Regions from separate parts of the Homo sapiens genome. Here region 2 is reported to be linked to region 1. The links are microRNA targets in miRTarBase. Many come from high-throughput screens and were not tested one by one. Region 1 holds a microRNA gene; the other region holds the end of a gene's coding sequence.
Evidence for each region. Region 1 holds the annotated microRNA hsa-miR-655-3p (AUAAUACAUGGUUAACCUCUUU, at 5,407-5,428, opposite strand). A microRNA usually pairs through its seed, bases 2 to 8, with sites in the 3' UTR of a target mRNA and lowers its output. Matches are read on the target gene's strand: a 7mer-m8 pairs with bases 2 to 8, a 7mer-A1 pairs with bases 2 to 7 and ends in A, and an 8mer does both.

Region 1 (12,598 bases):
GGGAAGAAGGATTCAGTCACACACCCAGGAGAAAAGCTGGCCCACATCAGGTCCCTCAACAGAAGACAACATGGCGTCCCACATCGGAAGTCAACACTTCAAGGAGGCTGTCACAGTGGTGAAGGGGCTGCCAAGGCTGACTCATTGCATTTTAAGTAAACATACACCCCCAAGAGCACGTGTCATCGCAGTCCACCAAGCAGTCACAGCAAGTCCATGGCCGCTTCCCCAGAGTTGGTGGGAGCTCTGGAAAGTCTTCCTGGAGTGGGAGTGATGCTGAGGGTTGGTGACTAGGTGGCCCACAGGGTGAACACAGTGCATGCCCCTCTGGTCAACCAGTCACACACCCTGGACGGTGCTGACACCAACATCTCTTCTGGAAGTCGGCCTGGGGCCCAGGGAGCCTCTCTTCAAAGTCTTGTGAGGTGACGCTGGTGACAGAACCACAGCTGATTCCCCAGAGTTGGTGAGACCCATGGGAAGACCTCCTATAGGTGCATGGGAGGCTCGGATTATCGGGCCAGGTGACTTACAGCTAGGTCAGCGCATTGTCCATGGCCCGCCATCCATTCTTGGCTTTTCCACATGGTTGACACAAAGACTATCTTTCCTGAAGCTGCCATTGTGTCCAGGAAGTCCTTAGAGGTAGCATTTGGTACTGAAAAAAGTGTTGTCCGTGAATGATTCGTCATAAGTAAAGCGAATCCACCACGAACAACTTCTCTTCAAGTACCACAGAAAAGCAGAGACAAGACAGACAAGGAGTCCCCTTCCACTTCTCCAAGGGGAGTGGCTGCCAACCACCATCCTGTGGACAGAGTGGACACCGAGCATTAGTGAGGCAGCTTACGGGTGTCCTAGGAACACACTGGAGTTTGGGCAACCCTTCACTCACCTCCCTTGGAGTGGTGCTGGCACAGTCCCCCTTCCCTGGAGTTGAAATTGTGGTCCTGAATCCACACGCACAAGGTTTAGAAATAAGAAGAGGGAAGCCACTTGTCACACGCCAGGAGCACTCCGCAGTGTGTAGACCCCAGGGTTTCTGAACAGGGCCTTGGACTTCTCAACAGAGCACACTGAGTTATCCATCAAGCACATCAAGGTGCCAGCCAGGCTCCCGCAGGGCCCACTGAACTAGGGAGGTCCAGAGGGGGCCCCCTTTTGCCACTGCAGGTGCCCCTAGAGAAACTGCCCAGCTCAGGCACGCCAGGCTCCTGGTAGGTTCCCCATCACTGCCCTGGGTAGATTCTCTATCAATGCCCTTGTGGTCAGAGTGATCTTTCCAACACAGACCACGCATCCCCCCTGCTCACAACCCTTCCAAATCCCCCATCTCACTCAGAATAAAACCTGGAGTCCTGCCTCTCCCAGCTCAGACCCAGCGACTCCCAGCAGCTCGGTTCAATCCCACTGGCCTTCTTGCTTTTTCTTAAAGATGCCAGGGGGCTTTCCATGGGCCTTGCCCTCCTCCTGAAATGCTCCTACCCCAGACCTTCCTCTGGTCCACCCCACTCCATTCCCACCCACATCCTCAGAGAGAGCTTTCCAGACCCCTGTATTTAACACAAAGGTCCACCTGCTTTTACCTCTTTCTGTCACTGTAACCCGCTTTCCCTTTCCCCATAAAACCTAGCAGTGGACAAAATTACGCTTCCTAATTCATGTGTTCTCATCCGTCTCTTCCACCAGAATGTAAAGTCCACATGAGCAAGAACTTGATTTCATTCACTGCTCTCTGCTAAGGTCCAGAATCACCTAGAACACAGTGTGCACTCCATCACTATTTATGGAATGACCAAGTCATTCCTTGTTATTTGATCAACTCATGAACCATGTAGTTATGCTATAAACAAAAGAATCTGATTTTTTTAAAAAGAGAGAACTTTATCGAAACAAAATCATGGTGGCCAAAGTCACCAACCCTCTCAATAGCCATTATGGCCATGGGCAGGACACAGCTCTGGCAGGAGAGTGAGCTCAGGGAGACGCCTCAGAAACAAAGCTCAGACTGCTCAACTAACTCTCCACAAACTCCAACAGATGTGGATGCCAAGTCTCCCCAGAGGGCGGTGCTGCTTCCAGAAACCCTTCCCTGGCAAGATTTGGCACTCAAAAATTCTGCCCTGGAACAAAAGCAATAATGATGACCAATTACCTATCAGTCAGTCCGGCTGATGACAGTAACACTACCGAGCCAGCATGTCTCCAGAGATTCATCTTACCAAGGGTGAGGGTCACTTGGAGCAGGTGACAGACGTCTTGTGTGAATGGGCCTCTCACTGGTCAACTTCCCCCAATAATGTAGTGCAGACACCAAAGCCCCTTCCAGAAAATCACAGCCTTAGAAGTAACCATCTTCCTCAGAGATTCGATTCTGGTCATGGCTGTGGCACATGAAGAAGCTAGTGCACTGCGATGGCCCGTTCACATACATACCTTGGGTGGGAGGTGAAGCCAAGACCCCTTGCCTGAAGGCGGGACGCTGTCCGGGAAGCCTTCCAAAGCAGTATTTGATACTGAAAAACTGGATGTCCCTGTATGATTCGTCATAAATTAAGCGAACACAGCAGGGATAACCACTCTTCAAGTACCGAAGGCTGACGGTGACGGCCCACGTCTTCACCAGAGTCTGCCTTCCTTCCAGCTAGTCCGCCTGAGGATGAATTGGGGACAGAGGGTTAGGAGAGTTGAGGGGTGCACAATGTCAATCAAGCCCTTGCTTTCCAGCCAACCATGCATTCTTGCCCCTGGAGAGGGACGAAGGGCAACAGCTCCTTCCAGAAAGCTTCCCCAGCAAGATCCATACTCAAAAAAGGCACTCCCTCATGAGACTGGGCATAAAGAAAGCAAACCCGGCAAGGAGAAGGTCCTTTCAAGTGCCAGAAAATAGCATGGCCTAGGAAACCACCACCTTGTCTTCTGAGCTGATGTGGCCTCCAGAAGTCACTGGATAGGTAGGGACTGTGGATCAACTGACATACACCATTTATAAAATGTACGTTCTCTGATCAACCATCCATTCCCCTATCATGGACAGCACCCTGCCTCCAGGTCAGGGTCCTGCCAGGGGACATCTCCGGGGAGTTTGTCCTGAAAAACAGTGGTCCAATATGATAAGCCACAAACCCAGGCGAGGCCCCACGGTCAGCCTCAACCCTGCTCTGCCCCCGAGGCCTCCAGAGCCTGGAGGCCACAGCATGTGAGTCTTACTCCAATGAAGACACAGGCTCTGCCATGGGTCATCCTTACGAGTATTTCACGAGGTGCTGACACCAATGCCTCCTTTAATAATTCCTTGGAATTATATCCAGGAAAGAGGTGATGCTGAGTTGCATTTGCAGCAGAGAAAGCATTGTAGAGGGAACCTGCCATTGACGAGACCTCCCCAGGTGTGTCAGAGGAGTCCCCCTGCCTCCTCTTGTAGGTAGCCTGGATGCTGAGGGTCAAGGACAGAGAAAGCCTGTGACCTGGCTTGATAATCTGTCCTGTGGCCTCTGGCTCTGCAGCACCTCCTGGATCGTGGCCTCGTGCTGATGGCCAGAACCTTTCCCCGGAGTTGCCCTCCCTTCTGGGGGACCCTCATGGGCAGGCTGCATGGATAATGAGAATTAATGACCCATTTAATAGGTATCATCAATTCAGCCCCCTCTCTGCCTGGGACACGGAGTGGGGCTGAGCACCGAAATGGTCTTGCCCAGAAGTCCCCCAAGGACGGGTTGCTTGGGCCATTGAACATTGGGCATCGTCAGCAGACCCTCCCCCAGGTACCTGGTGATGGTGCTGACATAGACCTCCTCTCTGGTGGCGGGACACCTCCACACATTCTCCCACTGTGCAGGAATGAGGCCAACTGTGTGGTCTTTGTCATGAAAAATGCAAGAGCACTCCGGTGGTTCCTCACCAAGCCCCACGCCGCGACACGAGCACATCGGGTCCCCCGGCCAGAGCCTGTATCACTTCTAGGGCTTCTCCTGAGGGTGGAATGAATTCTCTGGGTTAGCTGTGCAGAGAACACATTCGTCAACAAAGTTCATATCCCTGCGTCACCTCTGTGCCCATACCTCAGGCGAAGCTGACAGTTTTCTTACTGTGAAGCCGGCACCTGCAGGCACCCATAAAGAACTGACTCCACACAGGGACCCCAGCGCACTGGCCACCTCAGATAGGACAAAGCCACGGAGGCAGAGAGCAGTGGGGCTTTGCAGCCACTCCAGGATGCTGCCCCACACAGGGACCACATCCTGAAGGGGGCGGGGCTTGGTGCCACTGCCCTCCACTGTGTTAGTCCATTTTCTGGCTGCTGATAAAGACATACCCAAGACTGGGCAATTTGCAAAAGAAAGAGGTTCAATTGGACTTACAGTTCCACGTGGCTGGGTAAGCCTCACAGTCATGGTGGAAAGCAAGGAGAAGCAAGTCAGGTCTTACGTGGATGGCAGCAGGCAAACAGAGACCTTGTGCAGGGAAACTCTGCCTTATAAAACCATCAGCTCTCATGAGACCCATTCACTATCACAAGAACAGCAAGGGAAAGACCCACTCCCCTGATTCAATTACCTCCCACCAGGACCCTCCCACAACACAAAGGAATTCAAAATGAGATTTGAGTGGAGACACAGCCAAACTATATCATCCACCAAACGGGGGATCAAGGACAGCCTCCCTTCTCCATAACCAGGGGACACGCTGGAGTCCGTGTTCTCCTCTCAAACCAGGTGCTGTGTGCAGGAAGCCCTCCAAGGCAGCATCACAGAGCCGAAGATTCATTAGCTGCATGGTCTCCATCGGGAAGGAGTGAAGGGAACCTGGCACCGTGCCAGTGTCTATGAGCACCAAGCAATGGACCAGGAGACCCCACCAGGTCGGCTGGCAGAGGGAAGCTGACCTGAGGAGGAAGTGGCACTGGGCCAGTGACCTGGGTGAGGAGTGGGAACACAGCCCAAGTCGGCCTGCCCTTCACACACCCACAGAGGTGCTGGACTTCATCCAGGGAGCCACCCTGAGAGGAAAACAGGCTGTCCTCAAAGGAGTCCGCATGGAGGAGTTAACCTCTCCTCAAGTGTCCCAGTGGAGTGGTAAACCTTGTCCTTGCCCCCAGGGACCCACCCTGAAAAGCACTGGGTCCAGGAAGGGACCTAGCCCTGTGGCTAAGCCACAGACCCAGCCACTGGGGGAAGGCACAAGTTGGCATTCAAAGAGGAGGGAACCTCACATAACTCGCAAAAACACATCGCATTCACAGCAAACACAGCAAAGCAACCCAGGGCTCTTCCCTCCACCAGCCTCACTTCCAGGAAGCTTCCCTCACGCAGCACGGAGCCGGGGCAGGGGCTCTCAGCTCACACAAGGCACACACTCTCACGTCTCCTGTGGGGGCGGCCCTCCGAGGCAGAGTCTGATATTCAAAAAGAGGTTAACCATGTATTATTCATGATGAATGAAGCGAACATAACACGGATAACCTCTCCTCAAATATCCTTGCATAGTTCTGAAACGAAAACCATGGCCTCTTCCCCACCGTTGTCTTTGCTTCCAGAAGATTCTTCTTGGGATGAGCTGAATCCCAGGGTTGGGGCAGGGAGGTGTTCACATCCTGCAAAGAAAGCACACGTACTGGCATTGACCTTCCATTCCCGTACCTCAGTCTCAGGGCCCAGGCAGCCCTGGCACCAAAGTCAAAACCCTGACATTGGAACCATGCTCAGAAAGACTTCTAAGGCAGGTTCCATTAAAAATATATGAAAGCTTCCTCCACGGATTCCTGAAAGACGGGATTTGATGACGAGAACCAGCAGAATGCATGTCAGAGATAAGCAAAGCCATCATGAAGAATTCTGTTTCCGATAAAATGGGGTGTCACTGATCCCTGAAGACAGGGTCCCTACCGCAGAGATGGTCTCAGTTCCTGGAATTTCCTCCCGATGACTGCTTGGAAACGGAGGGTCACAGAATTCCAGGGCCCAGCACATCAATAATGAATAAGCGTGCCGTTGACCTGCACCCGACAATCTTGCAGCAGCTTGACACCGGCGGCCCCTCCCTGAAGCAGGTCTTGTATCTGGGAAGCCCTTTGAGGCATGATTTGATTTTAAAGAAAAGTAATCTCATGCTATTTACGCATGTGAAAGTGAACCCTTGTTCACAAACCAAAACATGGCACGTTGATTCTGGGCCGTTCTCCCACGATGGACGGTATATGGCATGTGGGGAGACAGGCGACACATATCACAGGGAAAGCACCTGGTCTCCAGCCCCAAACCACTGTGAGTGTTGTCCACAGACCGGCGGTATTAGCATCACTTGAGAACTTGCTAAAAATGCAGAATCTTGGTCCCTGAATCAGAATCTGCTTTTTAACAAGATCCCTAGGTGATGAAAATCTTAGGAGCATTTTTAAAGTTTGAGAAACACTACTCTAGCCAACTATTCATATGCACACGCACACAAACACACACACACACACACACACACCCCAGAGGTGCTGTCGACCACAACGTCTTATTCCATGAGAGTCTGTCTAAGATGGGGTGGTTCCCAAGGAAGGCACGAAGCCATGCCACGTCCACCAAGAATAATCCAAATACCCAACAGGCAGCTGCTTAGGAGCTGCCAAAAAGTAGTAATAGTAACAGGAAATGTACGGAGTTTTTACTAATGTTTGCATTCCCTACAGGAAGTGTTTCATACTCAGAATGAAGGCTACAGATAGGAGAGGCTGGACCCAGGTTCCCCGGTCCACCATCTACCTAGAGAGAGGCTTGACCCCGGCATCTCTCCAAGGAATTCCTCGTGGCTAAGATTTAATAACAAGAAGAGAAAGAGAGATGAAATAATTGTGAACATCTTCCAATAAAAAGATATGGCACCAAGCCCCTAAATGGCATCTCCACCCCAAAGCTAGCATTTGTCCAAGGAAATCACACTGGTGGCTTGCATTCTGAGATCACTGGATTCATCATTATAAATCATCAACACAGTCACACTCCATGGTGGGGCAGGCACCAATGTCCCCTCACTGAAGTCAGCACTGTGCTTTCAAAAACTTCTGAAGCAAATTTGGATACTAAAACAATGGTTGTCCGATATTAATCATCATAAATATAGAGACCATACTACGGACAGCCATTCTTTAAGCACCAAAGAACTGTGCCATCAAGAAGAGCTGGGCATCTTCTCCAAAGTTGGTGTCTCTTCCAGAAAGTTCTTCTCAGGTAGTCCAAACAATGAGGATTAGCAGGTCAGCTTCACACATTGAGAGTCAAGCCCATGCCTGGGGGTCAGTCACACTCTTGGGCAGGGGAAGGGGGTCTGGCCCCAATGATCGGTCCCTAAGGTTTGCTTCATGTCCAAGAAGTGCCTCCAAGAAGCAGGATTTGATAAGTAGCTTGAATGCTGCGTCACCCACAACACACACCCATGGCCAATGCAAATCCCTGATAGCACCAAGGAGTCCCGTGGCCCCCTGCCAAGCGTGGCCCCGCCTCCAGGGTTCTGAGGTTAGGGCACAAGTGTCCCCACCACAAACCAACTGCATGCGCCCTCATCCCCACCCAGGCGTGAGCCCCTGGGAAGGGCTGATGCGTGCATCCCTTTACAGAACTTGTCATGGCGTCCAGGAAGTCTGCCGAGGCAAGATTTGATACTCAAAAAGAAATTGTCCTTGTATGATTCATCATAAATAAAGCGAACACACCAAGGATAATTTCTCCTCAAGTATGAAACAGCAGCACGGACCACCACCTCCAGGTCTTTGGCTCAAGGTTAGATGGTGACTGCTTCGTGGCAAACCCAGTCACACACTCGCTCATGCACACACACCACGCACACACAGGCATGCACAATGCATGCACCAAGTTTGACCTCTCTTTAAGCACCAGGGAAGCAAGATGCCATAGAATCCTCACTCAGCTTGGCATCCTCGCTCAAGACTCCTTCAAAGCGTAGATAGTGGCCGAGGTCAAGAACCCAGGGACTGTCTCTCTTAAGTGGAGCAAATGTTCTCGGCACCCCTGCTGACCCCCACTGCATGTGGCATTCTGTATCAAAAGCCACTGTGTGAATGGCTTAGCTGCCAAGCATCAAGAGCATCACTAGCCCCCATTGTAAACACCGTGTATGCTCTGGGCTTCCTAGTCCATTCCATACCCGATGAAGGACTTGACTTCCATGTTTTGACACTGTTCCAAAAACCCATGGAGAGATTTTAGTCATAAAACCACCACCACCACCACCACCACCACCACCAATGATAGTTTCACAGCACACAAGGGTCCTGGCTACCACCTACGAAGTGCCGACCACGGGGCTCTGCTCTGAGCCGTGTACAAGTCTTAACTCGTTCAGCCCCAGCAGCCCCAAGAAATGGACGCCAATGTGATTCCCCTTTGACATGTGAGACAATGGGCACAGCACGATGAGATCCTTGCCCAAGGTTGGACGGTTAGTAAATGTCAGAGGTGGGATCCAAACACAGGAAATCGAGCTCCAGAGTCTGCGCTCTTGATACTGAAAAAGTGGATGACCCTGTACGATTCGACATGAGCAAAACGAACAGGACAGGGATAACCACTCTCCAAGTACCAAAGGTTAGCACGGAAAAGAAAGCCACTGCCTTGGGTGGACTTGGTACGTCTTCAAGGCGCGGTCCTGGGGATGAATTAGATGCTGAGGGTTAGTGGACCGGGTCACATACCCCAAGCAGAACATGCACACTCACGGACCGAGTAACAGCAGGGACCACAAAGCCACTACCCCACACGAGCGCCACCCCAGCCATCGGCCCGGGCTGATGACTTCCCGCTCAGGAAGCAGGGACCCAGACCACACACATCGTGCATGCTTTTGGCCCCGCCCACACTGCACCAGGAGAGGGGATGTCCCAGAGGCCACTGCCTTCCCTAAAGTCATCCAGGTGCCCGTGAAGTCCTCTCTGTGAAGTGGGGACCCGTGAACGATTTGCCACACACAAAACGGATACACACGGTCATGCACACACATACCGCATCCCTTGCTGAGTGTGGACTGGGTCCAAGACAAGGTTTGATACTCACAGAGAGCTTGCCCTTGTATATTCCATGTCAATAAACCGAATATACAAAGGGCAACCTCGCTTTAAGTACCAAACAATAGCACTGGGCAGGTTCCTCACTATCATTCACGGGGCCGGCCTCCTCTCCCGGGGTTCATCCTGGCGGGGGAGGGGGTGGGAGATGCGGGATCAGCAGACCAGGTGGCAAACACCACCTGCCAGCTGTGTGCCCATAGGTCAGCTCTCCATCCCAAAGGGGCCAGGAAGGGGCAGACGCCAGTGCCCCTTCACCAGAATCAGCCTCTTTTCCAGGCATCACTCCAGATTAGAACTTGTTCCTGAAAAGGAGATCCACCCCACGGGCCTTCCTGGGCACACGCAGAGCTCAGCTTCTCACTTTCTATAGGAATTCCCTGGGGTGGGACCACCATCTCCTTCCCAGTGTGGGCACCTCTCCAGGAAGTTTTCCTAAGGATGCACTCAGCACCGAGGTCCCAGGCACTGGATGAATTTACACCTTAGACAAAGCAAAGGCCCTGTGGTCACCATCCCTTCATCCATCTCACAGAGCCGTTGACACCAGTGTCATTCTCCATGCCAGCCCTTGCCCCACCCCTGCCAGAGGCTGGCATCGTGGCCATGAAGCCATGCTAAGAAAGAGCACAGGGTCAACAGTAGTAAACCCCACGTACCCCCAAGTAACTGAGGAAGCAGACCCACAGCCCATTCCCCACAGTGGTCTCTCCTTCAAGAAGGGGAGAGGAGCGGGAGCCGCCTGGTCCAGGTGGCAGGTTATGTGACTCATTACCCAGGCGTGGTGCTCACCTCTCTTCAGCTGGACGTTCGCTTTCCTTGGGCTGAGGATGCTGCGAATGTCCTTCCTGAAGCTGGCTTCGGGTCCAGATGACCCCCATGGCAGTCGGGGTGTAAAAAGCCGGCAGTCACACGGCCCAAGGAGTGTCTCCACAAACACAGAACAAGAGTCCCATTCTCAGGCAGCCATCCTAGGTGTGAGCAGAAAGCCAGCAGTCAGAGACGGGGCACAGACATCGAGGCAGAAGCAGGCGCCCTCTGACCTCCCACATGCACGCACCTGGTGCGGGGCTGACAGCTCCCACGGCTCATCCCCAGCGCTGCCTTCATGGGCAATCACAAATGACAAATAGAAGCAAACCATTCTTACAGATTCAGCCTGGGGACTGCGAGCTGGATCATGAACACCCAAGCATCAAAAAAAAAAAGCGCTGATGAGCACACCTCAGCCCCTTCCCCAAGGTCAATACCACCTCCAGGAAGCCCTCCTGGGGCTGGCCTACCAGGCTCGAAAACAGCATAGACAGAGCCAGTGCTCCGTGGTCCACCATCACTGCTGTCTGTGTTCCCCTTGAAATGATCCAACATCCAGGTCCCCCTTCTAAGGCTGATGCTGGGAACAGGAAGCCTTCTGTGTATGACTTGGTACCAAGAAGAGGCAGATCAATGTGTGATTTATCCTTAAAAAAGCAAACCACCATTAAACTTGGAGCACACAAAAAGGTCCCTCCTCTCCCACTGCTTCCAGGGAGTCCACAGGAAGAACCAGCATAGAGGGCGAAGGCAGAACCCAGGGGCAGCGTCACAGCCAACCTCACGTTCCCGGACATGGAAGCCAGGCCATACCTGAGAGGGGCTGACATCCGAGGCTTTGTCCTGGAGACAAGCAGGGTATGAGTGTCTTCTCCGACAGTTTGATACGCAAATGAGAGTCTCCCCCTGTATATTCGCCATTAATCAAGTGAACATACAAAGGGTATCCTCTCTTTAAGTACCAAAGGGTGGCTCAAAGAGCAGGTGAGGACCATGCCGGGTCTTTGCCGGAGTGGACATCTCCTCCTGCGAGGCCTGAGACCAAGGGGGAGGGGCCCGGTGACAAGCCTCATCTGGCTGACCCTGGAGCTGGGCCTGCACCTTGCACATTGTGGCCTGGCCCCGAAAGGTGGCACATCCAGGACTCCCTGCAGGCGAGACTGGCTTCTAAACAAGGGAACAGGTAGGCATGACTATCAGTGTGCTCAGCATGCATGGGTGAACCTGCTTCAAATACCCACAAGCTACATGGACAATGGAACCATCACCTTTCTCCAAAGGGGCACAGGGTGTGAGGGCTCAGCCCGGCAAGACATGGAGTTATCAGAGAAGAAGGCATCTGCAGGCATTCTCAGAGCTGGAGAGCGCTGAGACAATGTCTCTCCTCTGAGGCTGGTTGTCCTAGAGATGACCAGATCCAAGAATGTGTCACCTGTACCTACCTCGAAACAAACAAAAAGAGGGCCCCAGCGTCAGACTCTAGCGACAAAGGAGTCCTGAAGACCAGACACACCTGCCCAAGGCACACTCAGGTGCAATCACTGGACAATGTGCTCCGAGGACTGGCCATTGGAGTCCAGCGACAGTCCCAGAGGGCACAGGCAGGCTCAGGGAGCTCCACCAGTAACTTGCCTTAGAACAACCTGACATCCATGTGCTTCCCTCAAGGCTGACACTCTCTCAAGGATGGAGACCACCAGGGAGTGGCAGGTCAGGGGAGTAGCAGGTGAGAAGCAGCATCAGCTCTGCGCTCCACCATCCACCACCCATTCGTGTGTCCGGAGAGGTGCGAGGTTAGTGCTGGACGCAGGAAGCCCTCTGGGTATGACTTGGTATGGAGAAGAGGCAGATCCATGTGATTTATCCTTAAAAAAAGCAAACCACCATTAAACTCAGTGCACACAAAAAGGACCCTCCTCTCCCACTGCCTCCAGGGAGTCCACAGGAAGAACCAGCACAGAGAGCGAAGGCAGAACCCAAGGGCTAGGATCACAGCCAAGCTCACGTTCCCAGACAGGGAAGCCAAGCCGTACCTGAGAGGGGCTGACATCCGAGGCTTTGTCCTGGAGACAGCAGGGTCTGAGCGTCTTCCTCGACAGAGTTTGATACGCAAATAAGAGTCTCCCCCTGTATATTCGCCATTAATCAAGTGAACATACAAAGGGTATCCTCTCTTCAAGTACCAAAGAGTGGCTCAAAGAGCAGGTGAGGACTATGCCGGGTCTTCGCCGGAGTGGACATCTCCTCCTGCGAGGCCTGAGACCAAGGGGGAGGGGCCAGGTGACAAGCCTCATCTGGCTGGCCCTGGAGCTGGGGCCTGCCATACAGTTGACTTTACTTCCCAGCATCTCTTCACGACAGGATTGGTTACCAAAAGACAGGCAATCCTGTACCATTTGAAATAATGTAAATGTAAAATGGCTGAAATCCCTTTAGGGCCTGCAAAAACACCCTGGGAGAAGAACCTCTGCCTCTGCCCAAAGCCACTGCCTCCAGGAAGCCCTCCTGGTGAACACTGGCTAAGGGAGGTTAGAAGATGCAGTCACATGCATCATTAAAGAAAAAAGAGAAACAGAAATCCAACGCACTCCGTTTGCAAATCACAAAGCAGCACTATGACAAGTGTCCCTTCTCCTGAATTTGGCATTGTATTCAGAAAGCCATCTGAGCAGTTAGTTGTTACTCAGAAGTATTCATCTAGGGCAAGATTCGTCAAAGGAAAAT
Region 2 (16,408 bases), not on the chromosome of region 1:
ACTTACAGACAAATTATACTCTTTATTTTAAAATGTCCAGCTGAAATTATCTTTGACTATGGTCACCCTGTTGTGCTATTCAATAGTAGGTCTTTTTCATTCTTTTTAAGTAATTTTCTTGCACCCATTAACCATCCCCACCTCCCCCACCCACTCACCCACTACCCTTTCCAGCCTCATAACCATTCTTCTACTCTCTATCTCCATGAGTTAAATGTTTGGACTTTTAGATTCCACAAATAAGTGAGAGCATGTAATGTTTGTCTTTCTGTGCCTGGCTTATTTTACTTAACGTGGTGACCTTCAGTTCCATCTATGTTGTTGCAAATGACAGGATCTCATCCTTTCTTAAGGCTGAATAGTACTCCATTGTCTATAAGTAGTACATTTTCTTTTTTTTTTTGAGACAGAGTCTCGCTCTGTCACCCAGGCTGGAGTGCAGTGGCGCGATCTCGGCTCACTGCAAGCTCCGCCTCCCGGGTTGACGCTGTTCTCCCGTCTCAGCCTCCCGAGTAGCTGCGACTGCAGGTGCCCGCCACCACGCCCGGCTACACGTTGTTAGCCAGGATGGTCTCAATCTTTTGACCTTGTGATCTGCCCACCTCGGCCTCCCAAAGTGCTGGGATTACAGTTATGAGCCACCGCGCCCGGCCTATAAGTAGTACATTATCTTTATCCATTTGCCCATTGATGGATACTTAGGTTGCTTCCAAAGTCTGGCTGTTGTGAATAGTGCTGGAACCAACATAGGGGTGCAGGTATCTTTGATATACCTATTTCCTTTCTTTGGCCTATACATATGCAGTGGGATTGCTGGATCATATGGTACCTCTATTTTTAGTGTTTTGAGAAACCTCCAAACTGTTCTTCATAGTGGTGGTACTAATTTACATCCCCACAGTGTACGGGGTTTCTTTTTCTTTCCATCCTCACCAGCATTTGTTATTGCCTGGCTTTTGGATATAAGTGATTTTAACTGGGGTGAGATGATATCTCATTGTAGTTTTGATTTGCATTTCCCTGATGATCAGTGATGTTGACAACCTTTTCATATGCCTGTTTGCTATTTGTGTCTTGTTTTGAGAAATGTTTATTCACATCTCCTGAGCTTTTTCTGGCTCGGATTATTAGATTTTTTTCCTATAGAGTTGTTTGAGCTCCTTATAACTTGTGGTTGTTAATCTCTTGTCAAATGAGTAGTTTTCAGGTATTTTCTCCCATTCTCTGGGTTGTCTCTTCACTTTGATTGCATTCTTTGCTGTGCAGAAGCTTTTTAACTTGATATGTTCCCATTTGTCCATTTTTTTTTGGTTGTCTGTGTTTGTGCGGTATTGCTCCAGAAATTTTTGCTTAGACTAATGTCTTAGAGGTTTTTCTCAATTTTGTTTTTCAAAAAACTAATTTTTTGTTTCATTGATCTTTTGAATTGTTTTAAAATTTTAATTTCATTTATTTCTGCTCTGATCTTCATTATTTTTCTTCTACTAATTTTGGGTTTTGTTTGCGCTTGCTTTTCTAGTTCTGTAAGATGCATTGTTGGATTGTTTAGTTGAAGTTTTCCCTCTTTTTTGATGTAGGCACTTGTAACTATAAACTTCCCTGTTTGTACTGCTTTTGCTGTATCCCATAGGTTTTGGTATATTTTGTTTCTGTTATCATTTGTCTCAAGAAATTTTAAATTTCCTCCTGAATTTCTTTTAATTCACTGGTCATTTGGGAGCGTATTGTTTAATTTCCATGTATTTGTATAGTTTTGAAAATTCCTCTTTTCATTCTAGTTTTATTCCATTGAGGTCACAGAAAATGCTTGGTATTATTTCCATTTTTTGGATGCTTTAAGACTTGTTTTGTGACCTAACATTTGGTCTATCCTTGAGAATGATCCATGTGCTGAGGAAAACAATGTGTATTCTGCAGCTGTTGCATGAAACGTTCTGCAACTATCTATTAGATCCATTTGGCATATAGTGCAGATAAGTGCGATGTTTCTTTATTGATTTTCTGTCTAGTAGATTTGTCCAGTGCTGCAAATGAGGTCCTGAAGTATATAGCGGTTACTGTACTGGGGCCTCTCTTTAAAGTTCTAATAATATTTGCCTTATATATCTGGGTACTCTGGTGTTGGATAAATATATATTTACAATTGTTATATTCTCTTGCTGATTTTACTCTTCTATCATTATTTAATGACCTTCTTTTTCTCTTCTTATACTTTTGGTCTTGAAATCTGTTTTGACTGACACCAGTATAGTGACTCCTGCTCTTTTTTGTTTGTTTGTTTGTTTTTCATGGAATTTCCTTTTCCATTCTTTTATTTTCAGACTATGTGCGTTTTTATAGGTAAAGTGTCTTTCTTTCTCTCTCTCTTTCTCTTTTCCTTCCTTTCCTTTCTTTCCTTCCTTTTCCTCTCTTCCTCCCTCCTTCCCCTTCTCCTTTTCCTTCCTTCCTTCCTTCCTTCATTCATTCCTTCTTCTCTCTCTTTCTCCCTTCCCTTCCCTTTCCCCTCGTTCATCTCTCTCTTCCTTTCCTTTCCTTTCCCTTTCCCCTTTCTCCCTTTCTCCCTTTCAAGATGGGGTCTCACTGTGTCACCCAGGCTGAAGTGCAGTGGTGCAATCTTGGCTCACTGCAACCTCTGCCTCCCAGGCTCCAGCAATCCTCCCACCTCAGCCTCTCAGGTAGCTGGGACCACAGCCCAGCTAATTTTGTATTTTTGGTAGAGATGGGTTTCACCATGTTGCCTAGGCTGGTCTTGAACTCCTAAGCCCAAACGATCTGCTCGCCTCGGCCTCCCAAAGAGCTGGGATTACAGGTGTGAGCCACTGCACCTGGCCTCAAGTGTGTTTCTTAAAGGCAACAGGTCAGTGGGTCTTGTGTTTTCATCCATTCAGCCAGTCTATTTCTTTTGAATGGATAATTTACTCCATTTACATTCAATGTTGTTATTGGTAAGTAAGGCTTAATCCTGCCATTTTGTTACTTGTTTACTGGTTGTTTAGTGGTCTTCTTTCTTTCCTGTCTATGTTCCTTTAGTGAAGGTGATTTTCTCTGGTGATATGATTTAGTTTCCTGATTTTCATTTTTTGTGTATCCATTGTATGTTTTTTGGTTTGATGTATTTTAACGTGATAAGAACCTAACACTCTTTGCATAAAAAAGCAAGTGAAAAGAAAACTAATAAAAACTCTACGCCTTAGCTTAGTACTCCTGATTTTTAACTTTTTGCTGTTTCTTATTGTACTATGTTTTGAAAACTTGTTGTAGTTATCATTTTTGATTTGTTCATCATTTAATTTTTGTTTGTTTGACAAAGTTTCACTCTTGTTGCCCAGGCTGGAATGCAATGCCACAATCTTGGCTCACCACAACCTCCACCTCCCGGGTTCAAGCGATTCTCCTGCCTCAGCCTCCCGAGTAGCTAGGATTACAGGCATGCGCCACCACGCCCAATTAATGTCGTTTTTTTTTTTTTTTCTGAGACGGAGTCTCGCTCTGTTGCCCAGGCTGGAGTGCAGTGGCGCGATCTTGGCTCACTACAAGCTCCGCCTCCCGGGTTCACGCTATTCTTCTGCCTCAGCCTCCTGAGTAGGTGGGACTACAGGCGCCTGCCACCACGCCCGGCTAATTTTTTTTTGTATTTTTTAGTAGAGATGGGGTTTCACTGTGTTGGCCAGGACGGTCTCGATCTCCTGACCTCGTGATCCGCCCGTCTCGGCCTCCCAAAGTGCTGGGATTACAGGCGTGAGCCACCGCGCCCGGCCTAATGTCATATTTTTAGTAGAGACGGGATTTCTCTATGTTGGTCAGGCTGAACTTGAATTCCCGACCTCAGGTGATCTGCCTAATTAATGTTCTTTTCTGATTGAAGTACTCCTTTTATCATTTCTCGTAGGACAGGTCTGGTATTGATGAAATACCTCAGCTTTTGTTTGGCCATCCTTATTTCTCTTTATGTTTGAAGGATATTTTTGCTGGATATAATATTCTAGGGTAAAGGTTTTTTTTCTTTCAGCACTTTAAGTATGTCATACCACTCTCTCCTGGCCTGTAAGTTTTCCGGTGAAAAGTCTGCAGTGAGGCGTACTGGAGCTTCATTGTACGTCATTTCTTTTTTTCCCCCTTTGGCTGCTTTTAGGATTCTCATAATGGCATTTTGCTTAGTATATTTTTGTTAGGATTATGACTATGAAGGAATAAGGGCCTGTGGTATTTCATTATGCTATCTTGCTAATATGCTTGTATAATTTTATGCCTTAGATTTGTAAAGGATGCTATCTAGTAAGTGGAATAATTTGTTGTTTTTATTTTTTCCAGTTTTGTCTTCTTATCTTACTGAAGACATTTTGCCAGAGCAGGGCCTGCAAGTTTCATTCCAAAAAGTGATGCTGAGAAGATATGAAAGATGTTGTCTTGAGAAATTACGCTTAAGGAATGACTGGGAAATTGTGGGTGAGTGGAAAGGGCAGAAGGCAAGTTATAATGGACTTGACCTATGCTCAGCAACTACTCATAGCAAAAACTTTCAATGCAATAAATGTGTGAAAGGTTTTAGTAAATTTGCAAATCTAAATAAATGTAAGATAAGCCATACTGGAGAAAAACCATTCAAATGCAAAGAATGTGGCAATGTCTCTTGCATGTCTTTAATAATGACTCAACAGCAGAGAATCCATATTGGAGAGAACCCGTACCAATGTAAAAAATGTGGCAAAGCCTTTAATGAGTGCTCATGCTTTACTGACTGTAAGAGAATTCATGTTGGAGAGAAACATTGCAAATGTGAAGAATGTAATAACATTTTTAAGTCTTGCTCAAGTCTTGCTGTTGTTGAGAAAAATCATACTGAAAAGAAAACCTACAGATGTGAAGAATGTGGCAAAGCTTTTAACCTGTGCTCAGTTCTTACTAAACATAAGAAAATTCATACTGGAGAGAAACCATACAAATGTGAAGAATGTGGCAAATCCTTTAAGTTGTTCCCATACCTTACTCAACACAAGAGAATTCATAGTAGAGAGAAACCCTACAAGTGTGAAGAATGTGGCAAAGTCTTTAAATTGTTGTCATACCTTACTCAACATAGAAGAATTCATACTGGAGAGAAAACCTTCCGATGTGAAGAATGTGGAAAAGCCTTTAACCAGAGCTCACATCTGACTGAACATAGGAGAATTCATACTGGTGAGAAACCATACAAATGTGAGGAATGTGGCAAAGCTTTTACCTGGTTCTCATACCTTATTCAGCATAAGAGAATTCATACTGGGCAGAAACCCTACAAATGTGAGGAATGTGGCAAAGCTTTTACCTGGTTTTCATACCTTACTCAACATAAGAGAATTCATACTGGAGAGAAACCCTACAAATGTGATGAATGTGGCAAAGCTTTTAACTGGTTTTCATATCTTACTAATCATAAGAGAATTCATACTGGAGAGAAACCCTACAAATGTGAAGAATGTGGCAAAGCCTTTGGCCAGAGCTCACACCTTTCTAAACATAAGACAATTCATACCAGAGAGAAACCATACAAGTGTGAGGAATGTGGCAAAGCCTTTAACCACTCTGCACAACTTGCTGTACATGAGAAAACTCATACCTGAGAAAAACCCTACAATTCTAAACAATATGGCATAGTCTTTAATACCTATTCACAACTTCACAGCAGAATATTTTTACTGAATAAGAGTGTTACAAATGTAATGACTGTCAAAAGGCCATTTACAGTCTATGAGCCTTTGAGTGCACTAAAATGTTTAGGCTACGAACAATACAAATAGACCGGTTCAACACCTCCACTTATATCACAGCTCTTACTGTACACAGAAGAATTTATACTGGAGGGAAACCCTCCAGTTGCTCAAACTGTATTCAATTTCAAAGACTTTGTATTGGAGAGAAACCCTACAAATGTAATAAATGCAGAAACAACATTTGTTCAAAAAATATACCTCAGAAAACACCAGAGTGTTCACACTAAAAACTGTTTTACAGATGCAGTAAATGTGAAAAAATGTCTAATCAAAAATTACATCAAAACACATCCAAGAATTCATAGTAAAAAGCACTAAGTCACTGACACTTTCAGACATTACTGTAAATCTGAGTGTTGGTTATAGAGAATAATTCAAAGTTAAGTTAAAGTAAGTAGGAGATTCACCTTTTGGGGAAGTTATAATTACATTTCAAGTATACCTTTTGGTGCCAGGCACGGTGGCTCTTTCCTATAGTTGCTGCACTTTTGGATGCCGAGGTCGGGGGATTGCTTGAGCCCAGGAGTTTGGGACCAGGCTGGGCAACATGGCAAAACCTCATCTCTACAAAAAGTAAAATAAAAGCCAGGCTTGGTGGCACATGCCTGTTGTCCCAGCTACTTGGAAGGCTCAGGTGGGAGGATTGCTTGAGCCTGGAGGTTGAGGATGCAGTGAGCTGCTATCTGGCAACTTCACTCCTGCCTGGGCAACAGAGCAAGACCCTTTCTCAATAATAATAATAACAACATAATAATAAAGTATACTCGGTGCACTGAAAGAGTTTTAGCTTTTTTGAAAATCACATATTTATGTAATTCAAGTCTTAAATCACTTGATACCATGCCTTCATTTCTAGTGTTTATGTGAAGGCATGAGGCCTACTGTTGCTACATGAAAGCTGTGAGAGTTTCTTCTATATTCGGGTGGGTGTTGTTCATATCCTTTTCTTTGGAAGATTATGGACATTGCATTGTAAGCTTCCTGAAGAAATTTAACTGGAGAGGCTCTTTGTACTTGTCTTATAATAGGGTTGTAAGTGATTCATGAGATAGGTCTTCAGAGTACTATTCTGCATTATATTTAAGAAAGAAACATTTGAGTTTTACAAGTCAGTTGTTTTTCCTATTGCACATTAAGGTAATAAAATTCAGTGGATTTTGAAATGCTCTTTTTAGACTGTTTGAACTTAATTTGTTTTAATAAGACATTGTTTTAATGTCTTTGGACCGTTGTACATTAAGTGATGCGTATCCTACCACCAACGTTAACCTATCTCACCTTAGTTACGGTTGTAGGTAACAAATGGTAACAATACAATAGTGGGTAACATGGTGGAATAGTATCTCTAATGATCCCTTCTCCCAGTGGCATTAAACTTCAAATAATTTGAAAAATATTGTTCCCACACGTTACACCTTCATTCTGTTTGCTCTTTTTGTAATGACAGTGTCATTATTAAGGCTATAATAAAGCCTATATAGGATTATAATCAAAGACCGTGTATTTCTGAATCTTGAAGGACTATTCACAAAATTTTATTTACATTTTCCTTTTAACATGTGGCTTTTCTGGCCTGCAAAACATATACATGCTTTTAGTTTTGGTTTACATGGAGATAAATACATAAATATACTACTCTAAGGATAAATGTTAGGTGTAAGACAGTTATGAAGCAAGTAATGTGTTTGAAGTAAGTGCATACCTGTTTTCAGAATAAGAGAAAAATGTTGGAACCAAACATAATTTCAAAAGTATGGATAATTTATTAGCAAACTAGAAACCTCAAAAATGTCGAAGGCAAATCTGTTTTCTCTGCTTTGTATTGAAGGCATTTCTCTAAAATCTTATTTTGCAGAATTTCCACATGAAATTCCTGTTTTTACTTTTATGTTGCTCATGCTAGAGCTAACGTATAATTTTCTTGTTCCAAAATTCATGAAGAATTTCTTATGTGATCTTCTCAGGGATTATAATAATGATTTTATGAAACTTATTGGTGCTTAAAAAATAATCTGAAGATGTGAATAATTCCACAGTGAGTGTATTAATTTTCATTGTACTTAATTAGTACATTTCCATTTTTCCATTATTAGAGAACACTATTCGAGCCAACTTTTTTTGTTATTGTTTCTTTCACTTAATTGAGTAATTGAGTTTATTGACTCTATTGGGCAATTTGTTCAGATAAACACTTTGGAGGCTTTATAAGTCATAGGGCTATTTGGCATATAAATGAAGTGAAGAAACATAACGCAGTGCCAGATGTGTAGTAGATGTTCCATAATTAACAATAAATATTCTTTTTGGAGTGAAGTTGTGGCTCCAGGTAAGAGATTGGAAATATCCAGGATGAAGACCTGGCATTGATTCTGCATGCAGAGAAAGGACTTCTCTACCCAGGCTGCACAACTGACTCTCTCTGAAGAGGAATTCTGCTTTTATTTCCAAATTATCTCTGTTTTTTTGTGGTCTCTTTTTCTTTCTTCTCAACTACTTATGCATTCCAGCTCTCCTCCTTTTTTTTTTTTTTTTTTTTAAAACCTGTGTTATGGCTACACTTTCTCACTGTTCTCCACACAATATGTCATCTTATATAGTACTTTGTACATTCTAACAGGAAATTTGGACTTTCTCTTTTTCTTCTTCTTTTTTTTTTTTTTTTTTGGAGACATGGTCTCACTGTGTCACCCAGGCTGGTGTGCACTGGTGTAATCTCGGATTACTGCAACCTCTGCCTCCCAGACTCAAGCAATCATCCCACCTCAGCCCCCTGAGTAGCTGGGACTAGAAGTGTGCACCCCCACTCCTAGCTAATTCTTTTTTTAGTAGAGATGAGGTTTTACCATGTTCCCAGGCTTGTCTTGAACTCCTAAGCTCTAGTGACTGACCTGCCTTGGCCTCCTAAAGTGCTGGGATTATAGGTATGAGCCACACCTGGCCTGGAAATTTGAAATTTTTTAATGTGATGATAGATTTTTGTTTGTTTGTTTGTTTGTTTTGAGACTGAGTCTCACCCTGTCACCCAGGCTGGAGTGCAGTGGTGCAATCTTGGCTCACTGCAACTTCCACCTCCTGGGTTCAATCAAGTCTCTTGCCTTGGTCTGCCAAGTAGCTGCGATTACAGGCACGCACCACCATGCCTGGCTAATTTTTGTATTTTTAGTAAAGATGGGGTTCATCATGTTGGCCAGGCTGGTCTTGAACTCCTCACCTGAGGTGATCCACCCACCTCAGCCTCTCAAAGTGCTGGGATTACAGGCATGAGCCACTGCGCCCAGCCAATAGATTGACTTTTAACTGGAGAGTTTGAGGTCATTTATATTTTACAAAACTGACATTGTGATCATAGCTTACTGCAGTCTCAACCTCCCAGGCTCAGGTTATCCTCTCATCTTAGCTCCCTGGGTAGCTAGGAGTACAGCCACATGCCACCATGCCCAGCTAATTTTTTTTATTGTTTTGTAGAAATGAAGTCTCACTGTGTTTTCCAGGCTGATCTCAAGCTCCTGCGCTCAAGCAACCCCCCTACCTCAGCCTCCCAAAGTGCTGGCATTACAGGCATGTGCCACCATGTGGCCCAGCTACAAGCAACACATTCTTTTTTTTTTTTTTTGAGACAGAGTCTCGCTCTGTCACCCAGGCTGGAGTGTAGTGGCGCGATCACGGCTCACTGCAAGCTCTGCCTCCCAGGTTCATGCCATTCTTCTGCCTCAGCCTCCCAAGTAGCTGAGACTGCAGGCGCCCGCCACCACACCCGGCTAATTTTTTTGTATTTTCAGTAGAGACAGGGTTTCACCGTGTTCCCCAGGATGGTCTCAATCTCCTGACCTCATGATCCACCTGCCTCGGCCTCCCAAAGTGCTGGGATTACAGGCGTGAGCCACCGTGCCCGGCCAGAAAATTGTTTTTAAAATAAAAGACACCATTGATAATTGCATCAAATATATGGAATACTTAAGTCTATAGCTGACATAAAATATGTAAGAGTTGTACGGAGAAAATTTTCAAACTTATTTGAGAGATGTTTAAAAGGATATAAATAGATAGAGATCTCCTGACTTCGTAATCTGCCCGCCTCGGCCTCCCAAAGTGCTGGGATTACAGGCACGAGCCACCGCGCCTGGCCAAGCAACACTCTTAATGGAGGAGAGGGATGCACTGTCCATGGGCCAGAGAATTAAATCGGGCAGTTAGCATTGTTTGTTTGTTAAAAGAAAATATTTTAAAATCCTGACACAAAGTGTGGTGAATGTATAATTAATTAGAATAGGTAAAGCTTTAATAATATTGGACTATGTATTGTAAGCAGTGTGTAAATAAACATGTCAGAATTTGGAAATCTCTGAAGAGCAAATGTATCTTAGAAATTCTTAAGGAGAGTTAATGATAAGTGGATAATTTTGAATTTAATTTTCTATGAAACACTTACAGCACACCTTATGTTTCCATGCAGAACCTATTTTTGAATGTGTGTGTTGTGTTGAACAATAATAGAATGACTTCTGTGGATTTAAAATTTGAAATAATCTTTTTTTTTTTTTTTTTTGAGACTAAGTTTCACTCTTTTTGCCCAGGCTGGAGTGCAATGGCGCGATCTCGGCTCACCGCAACCTCCGCCTCCCAGGTTCAAGTGATTTTTCTGCCTCAGCCTCCCAAGTAGCTGGGAGTACAGTCATGCACCACCACGCCTGGCTAATTTTGTATTTTTAGTAGAGTCCGGGTTTCTCCATGTTGGTCAGGCTGGTCCCAAACTCCCAACCTCACGTGATCCGCCCACCTCGTCCTCTCAAAGTGCTGAGATTACAAGCTTTAGCCACTGCCCCCGGCCTGAAATAATCTTTCATTTAGATTTATTTTTGCAATCTTGGGAACTTTTTAAATCTCTTCCTATGTTTCATTGGGTGCAGTTGGCAGTCCATAGTCTTCATTCTTAATCACCTAGCTAGCCAACCGCTTGGCCATTCACTCTAAAGACATCTCAGAGATCATGGTAGCTTTTGGATTAAAACAATTTCCTCAGTGATTTTGGGGTGCTAAATTGTTTTCTGTGTTTCTACAATAGCCAAATTGGGACCATTAGCACTGTCTGCTTCTTTACTGTTTTCTATACCATCACCATCAGGAACAGCAGCTCCAGGTACCCCCAAGCTTAAAGTAAAAGTTCTAAAATATTTCAGTCCTTCCCATGTTCTGTGCTAGGCCCTGAGCACACTGGTAAATACCTGAGTTCCTGTACTGATGACGGACTAATAGAACAAAAACATCACGAAAACTTTATTTTTGAGTCTTTTCCACTGAGTTTATGAGAAAGACAGAAACATTTATTTCCCAAATATTCCCAAATATTATATATTTCAAAATTTGGGAAATATTTCTTTCAATATTTAGGAAATAAAGATGTCTCCTCAACCTACTGATTTTATTTTTGTGGATATATATCCAATAGTAAAATTGCTGTGTCATATGGTAGTTCTATTTTGAATTTTTTTGCGGAAATCATCATACTGTTTTTGGCAGTGGCTGTATTGGTTCACATTCATACCAACAGTGTGCTAGCATTTTTCTTTCCCCACACTTTCGCCAACACTTATCCTCTGTCTTTTTGATTATAGTCGTTCTAACAAGAGTGAGGTGATACCTCATAGCAGTTCTGATTTGCCTTTCCTTGATGATTATTGATGAACATTTAAAAATATATGTGTTGGTCATTTGTAGGTCTTTTGAAAAACATATTTAGATATTTTCCCCATTTTTAATATCTTTCTGTCATATAGTTTAAGTTCTTATGTATTTTCAATATTAACCCATCCGACATATAATTTGAATATTTTTTCATTCTGTGGTTGTCTCATCATATCATTGATTGTAGCTGGTGCTGTACAGAAGCTTTTTAGTTGAAAGAAGTTTCATTCATTTTTGCTTGTGTTGCCTGGGATTTTTACATTAAATCTAAAAAATTATTGCCCAGACTAATGTCATGGTACTTTTGCCTTATGTTTTCTCATAATAGTTTCAGGTTTCAGGATAGTTGTGATGAGTATCCCATCATGTGAATGCACTTAATGCCTCTAAAATGTACACTCAAAAATGGGTAAACTCGGCCGGGTGCGGTGGCTCACTCCTGTAATCCCAGCACATTGGGAGGCTGAGGCGGGTGGATCAGTTGTGGTCAGGAGTTCAAAACCAGCCTGGCCAACATGGTGAAACCCTGTCTCTACCAAAAAATACAAAAATCAGCAGTGTGTGGTGGTGCACGCCTGTAATCTCGGCTGCTTGGGAGGATGAAGCATGAGAATCACCAGAACCTGGGAGGTGGAAATTGCAGTGTACTGAGATCGCGCCACTGCACTCCAGTCTGAGCGACAGAGTAAGAGTCTGTCTCAAAAAAAAAAAAAAAAAGTGGCAGGGGGGCAAATCTTATAGTTTGCATATTTCATTACTGCTTTAAAAAGGGAAATTAACAGCTTTAGGTATAATATAACAGCCAAATAGTACAGGTCTATAACTAGAAAGTGACTAAATGTATCATTTTATAAGAATAAAATCAGTCTTTCAAGGCTGTTTAAAAATATGTAACTGATTGACAAATTATGTATTCAAACACAGCATAAGTTTTTTTTTTTTTTTTTTTTTTTTTTAAATACAGAGTCCAGGCTGTCGTCCAGGCTGGAGTGCAGTGGCGCGATCTTGGCACACTGCAAGCTCCGCGTCCCAGGTTCACGCCATTCTCCTGCCTCAGCCTCCTGAGTAGCTGGGACTACAGGCGCCCGCCACCACGCCTGGCTAATTTTTTGTATTTTTTTTTTTTTTAGTAGAGACGGGGTTTCACCGTGTTAGCCAGGATGGTCTCAATCTCCTGACCTCGTGATCCGCCTGTCTCGGCCTCCCAAAGTGCTGGGATTACAGACGTGAGCCACTGCACCCGGCCAGCATAAGATTTTTATATGAGTAATTGGGAAGGCTTCTATAAATATAAGGTAAAACTTAACGAGTTATTTAGAATGACGTATTTTAATTTTTTTAGAAAGATTAAACAGTCAAATTATTTAGTAATGGGGATAATTCATTTTAAAGAATACTCTAAACTAACAATTATGAGCAAATTATGTGAAACAAAAAGATTGCCTAAAAATAAATTTCTCAACCATATTCATAATTTAAGAAATATGGTTAGATTTGGAATGCGAAATTCATTTAGATAATTTCACCTAGCGAATGGGTAGTAAAGATTTCAATAACATTTCTGAGGCTATCAATTAAAAGATAATTTTCAAGGCTGTGAAAGAAGAGGAGAGCTGAAGGAGGTCTCAAGGATCTGTAGTGCCCGTGGTATGATGCACGTCTTTCCTTGAAATGGCAAAATCAAAAGCCCAGTCCCCTGGGTGAGATTCTTCTAACTAGGTAAATTACCCAGGATGCTCTCCTGGCTATGACAAACGGAATCAGGAGAAACGAGGGCTGTATTCTAAGTCTGGGTGTGGTCCCGTACCCCTCAAACCTCCGTTGTCACCACCACCGTCTTCTCCACATCTTCCCCCATGTCATCCCCAAAGCAACAGGAACAGTTCCAAAAACAACCCACCAAAGGACTCTATTTTTGAGTTATCTCCCCTTGTGGATCTCAGTGTTTCCTCCAGGTGTGTTCACCCAGAGCAGCTCTCTAGGATCTGAGACAGATTCCAGCCCAGGCCATGTAAAGACTTTAGATCCTAGCCTAGGTTACACGTGTATACCCGGAATGGATATGTACCTGACTGTTGTAGACTTTGAACAGTAGTCAGGCTTCCAAGGTGAAACCACAGAAGTCCAACACACATGACCTCATTTCTCACACTTGGATAAACAAGACTAGAGTCCACTTAAAAGCATTCACGATCACTGTATCTTACTGCATCTCACGCGGGCCACTGTCTTCACTGGAGAACATCATCATACTGGGCAGCCAGAGAAGTTCTTCAAGTCATTTCCCCGACAAGCAGCTTTGGAAACACCTGAAAATTTGCAACAAAGCAGACCAGACTGCTGAGTGAGTAACATGAAGGAGAGGCCCAGCAACCCGTTATCCTACAGCCCTCCAGGTGGTTCTGGTCCATTCTACGTGCAGCAGCCTCTGCAGTACCTGAGCCGTAGTTTATCCTGAGTTAACATAGTCATACTAGGAATACGCCATACACATGTGGTAACTTTAGAGCTGGACTCAAAACTCCAAAAATGTATGAACAAAAATAGGTCTGACCGACTCCACAGCCTTTATTGGTTTCTTGCTCTTTCCCATCTTCCTTCACTGCTTCCTTCTGTTCCTGGGATCACCTTTCAAGTAAATCACTTGCTTTTATGTGTTGCATCATCATCATGCAAATTAAAGCACCACAATTTATTGAACATTTTATCAAAATGTAAAACCTTACAAAAGATTAACAGGTTATGTTTGATTATGGGATTGAATATTACATTCTCACTGTTGTGTTTGATAATTTTCATTACAAAGTCATAAGTAATCAAATGATTAGACAGCTGTTTAATTATACCTCTAAAGAATAAGCATTCCATTTGCTTACATAATTATTGTGACTCTGGGATGAATGTATTCTGAATTTGAGGGTTTTTTCATAACACCCTGTTCCAGTGCACAATGTAAATAGCCTTTTTGTCAGAACTCATGATAGTACAGGTAGCAGCAGCCACTCCCAATCATGTCTCCTGTGTTCTGCTACAGAGAAATGTTTCTGCTTACATTGGTGGCCGAGTGATAGTGTTCTGCTCCATGAGATTTAGAGAGAAGTGCCTGAACAGGTTGGCCTTCTCTGAATTAAAAAACACTGGTTTTTAATAACATTCCCTGTCCTATTAGCTTCACATTTTTCTCCTTGTTGCTGTTTGGAATGTGATTCAATTGCCTGGAGGTGGATCAGCCGACTTGGGTTCTGAAGGAGTGAGCTTGAGCACAATGACCAGGTGTAGACCATTTCAGAGACAGGAAATGGAAAGAAACTGGCACACTATAAGGTCACTGCACTATTAGTTCTGCTGCCCAAGTACGTAAGAGTACACCTCATATGTTCTGATACTATACAAAAGTCTTTTCTTTGTAGCTGAACGCAAACTAATTGCTACAGAATGAGATGTATGAAAGTTTTTAGAATCAAAATGAAATCACCAATGTCATAAAAACTCTGACAAATAGAGATGCTGGAAGAGAGTGTTATTAAGCTTATACACCTGATAACAAAGCTATCCTAAAAGACTTTTAAAAACTTTATCCTTTTGCCGGGTGTGGTGGCTCATGCCTGTAATTCCAGCACTTTTGGAGGCTGAGGCGGGTGGATCACGAAGTCAGGCTTTCGAAACCTGGCCAACATGGCAAAACCCCGCCTCTACTAAAAACAACAAAAATTAGCCAGGTATGGTGGCGGGCACCCGTAGTCTCAGCTACTCAGGAGGCTGAAGCAGGAGAATCGCTTGAACCCAGGAGGCAGAGGTTGCAGTGAGCCAAGATCACACCACTGCACTCCAGCCTGGGCGACAGACCGACTCTGTCTCAAAAACAACAACAAAAAATGTATCCTTTCATAAAGGCCTTCACAACCTTGTACAAAACATTTCTATTGAGCCATTAAAATACCAGTGGGCACTGATGAGTAGATTTATTTTGGCACATATGAAAGTTTTTGTTAGCTGGCACAACGCTCTTACATTTATATCTGGGGCTTGAGGGAACATAAAAAATGCTCATAAACTTTGCGAATGGCAGGGAACTGGGAATGATAGAAAATATGTGCGTAACTGATCTGAGGTTGACTTTGTAAGTATTGTTGTAGTTTGGATATGTGTCCCTGCCCAAATCTCATGTTGAATTGTAAATTTATAATGTCTAAAGTTTAAAAAGTAGCTGCTTCTCATTCTGGTTTTCTGAACTTTATAGAGGCAAATAAATTTTCAGTCTGATTTGGGGGTCTCTTATTTGGCTTTGCATTTTCTCTTCAGGATAAATTCAGTGTTATTTATTTATTTATTTATTTATTTGAGACGGAGTTTCGCTCTGTCGCCCAGGCTGGAGTGCAGTGGCGCGATCTCAGCACACTGCAAGCTCTGCCTCCCGGGTTCATGCCATTCTTCTGCCTCAGCCTCCCGAGTAGCTGGGACTACAGGTGCCCGCCACCATGCCTGGCTAATTTTTTGTATTTTTAGTAGAGACGGGGTTTCACCGTGTTAGCCAGGATGGTCTCGATCTCCTCACCTCGTGATCTGCCCGCCTTGGCCTCCCAAAGTGCTGGGATTACAGGTGTGAGCCACCGCGCCCGGCCAGTGTAATTTACTCCTTTTGTCATGTGTTGTTTATTTACAGCAAATGTTGCCTACTACAACATTCCCACTGAAATAGAATGTCTTATGTCTTTGAATGCCTCAAAAGGATTTAAAGAAATAATAACTGATCCTTGAGCACATATACCTACAGGGATATAGCAATCATTGAGCTAAATAATTAGCTAATTAAAAAATTGTTTTGCAAATGTAGAAATGACTATTTCATTCTTGTTGTGGTGCTTCTGTAACCTTGTGTTCTGTCCCCCATGTGGACAGTGTGCCACATCTAGTTTCTGCATAGATTTCAAGAGAGACATAAGGACAAGTTTTTTATGTGTGAGGATGCAGCTTAG

Region 2: miRTarBase lists ZNF695 as a target of hsa-miR-655-3p. The part of its 3' UTR that is shown has no 7-base or 8-base seed match.

The regions. Positions count from the first base shown.
Region 1 is chr14:101,042,440-101,055,037 of GRCh38, reverse strand. It overlaps MIR655 (microRNA 655), which reads right to left and starts at 5,488; the gene lies at 5,392-5,488. MIR381HG (MIR381 host gene) reads right to left here and starts at 9,881. Exons shown (of 3, transcript NR_104192.1): 1 at 9,854-9,881; 2 at 3,769-3,971; 3 at 3,243-3,436. It overlaps MIR889 (microRNA 889), which reads right to left and starts at 7,137; the gene lies at 7,059-7,137. It overlaps MIR544A (microRNA 544a), which reads right to left and starts at 6,380; the gene lies at 6,290-6,380. It also overlaps MIR487A, MIR382, MIR1185-1, MIR1185-2, MIR381 and MIR487B, and 2 more genes. RefSeq lists enhancers at 8,272-8,772, 8,773-9,273.
Region 2 is chr1:246,976,159-246,992,566 of GRCh38, reverse strand. ZNF695 (zinc finger protein 695) reads left to right here. Exons shown (of 4, transcript NM_020394.5): 4 at 4,312-7,244. The coding sequence ends at 5,600. ZNF670-ZNF695 (ZNF670-ZNF695 readthrough (NMD candidate)) reads left to right here. Exons shown (of 7, transcript NR_037894.2): 4 at 4,312-4,446; 5 at 12,563-12,727. Among named protein-coding and RNA genes, the nearest start is that of ZNF695, 24 kb to the left of the region's middle. RefSeq lists an enhancer at 13,426-13,720.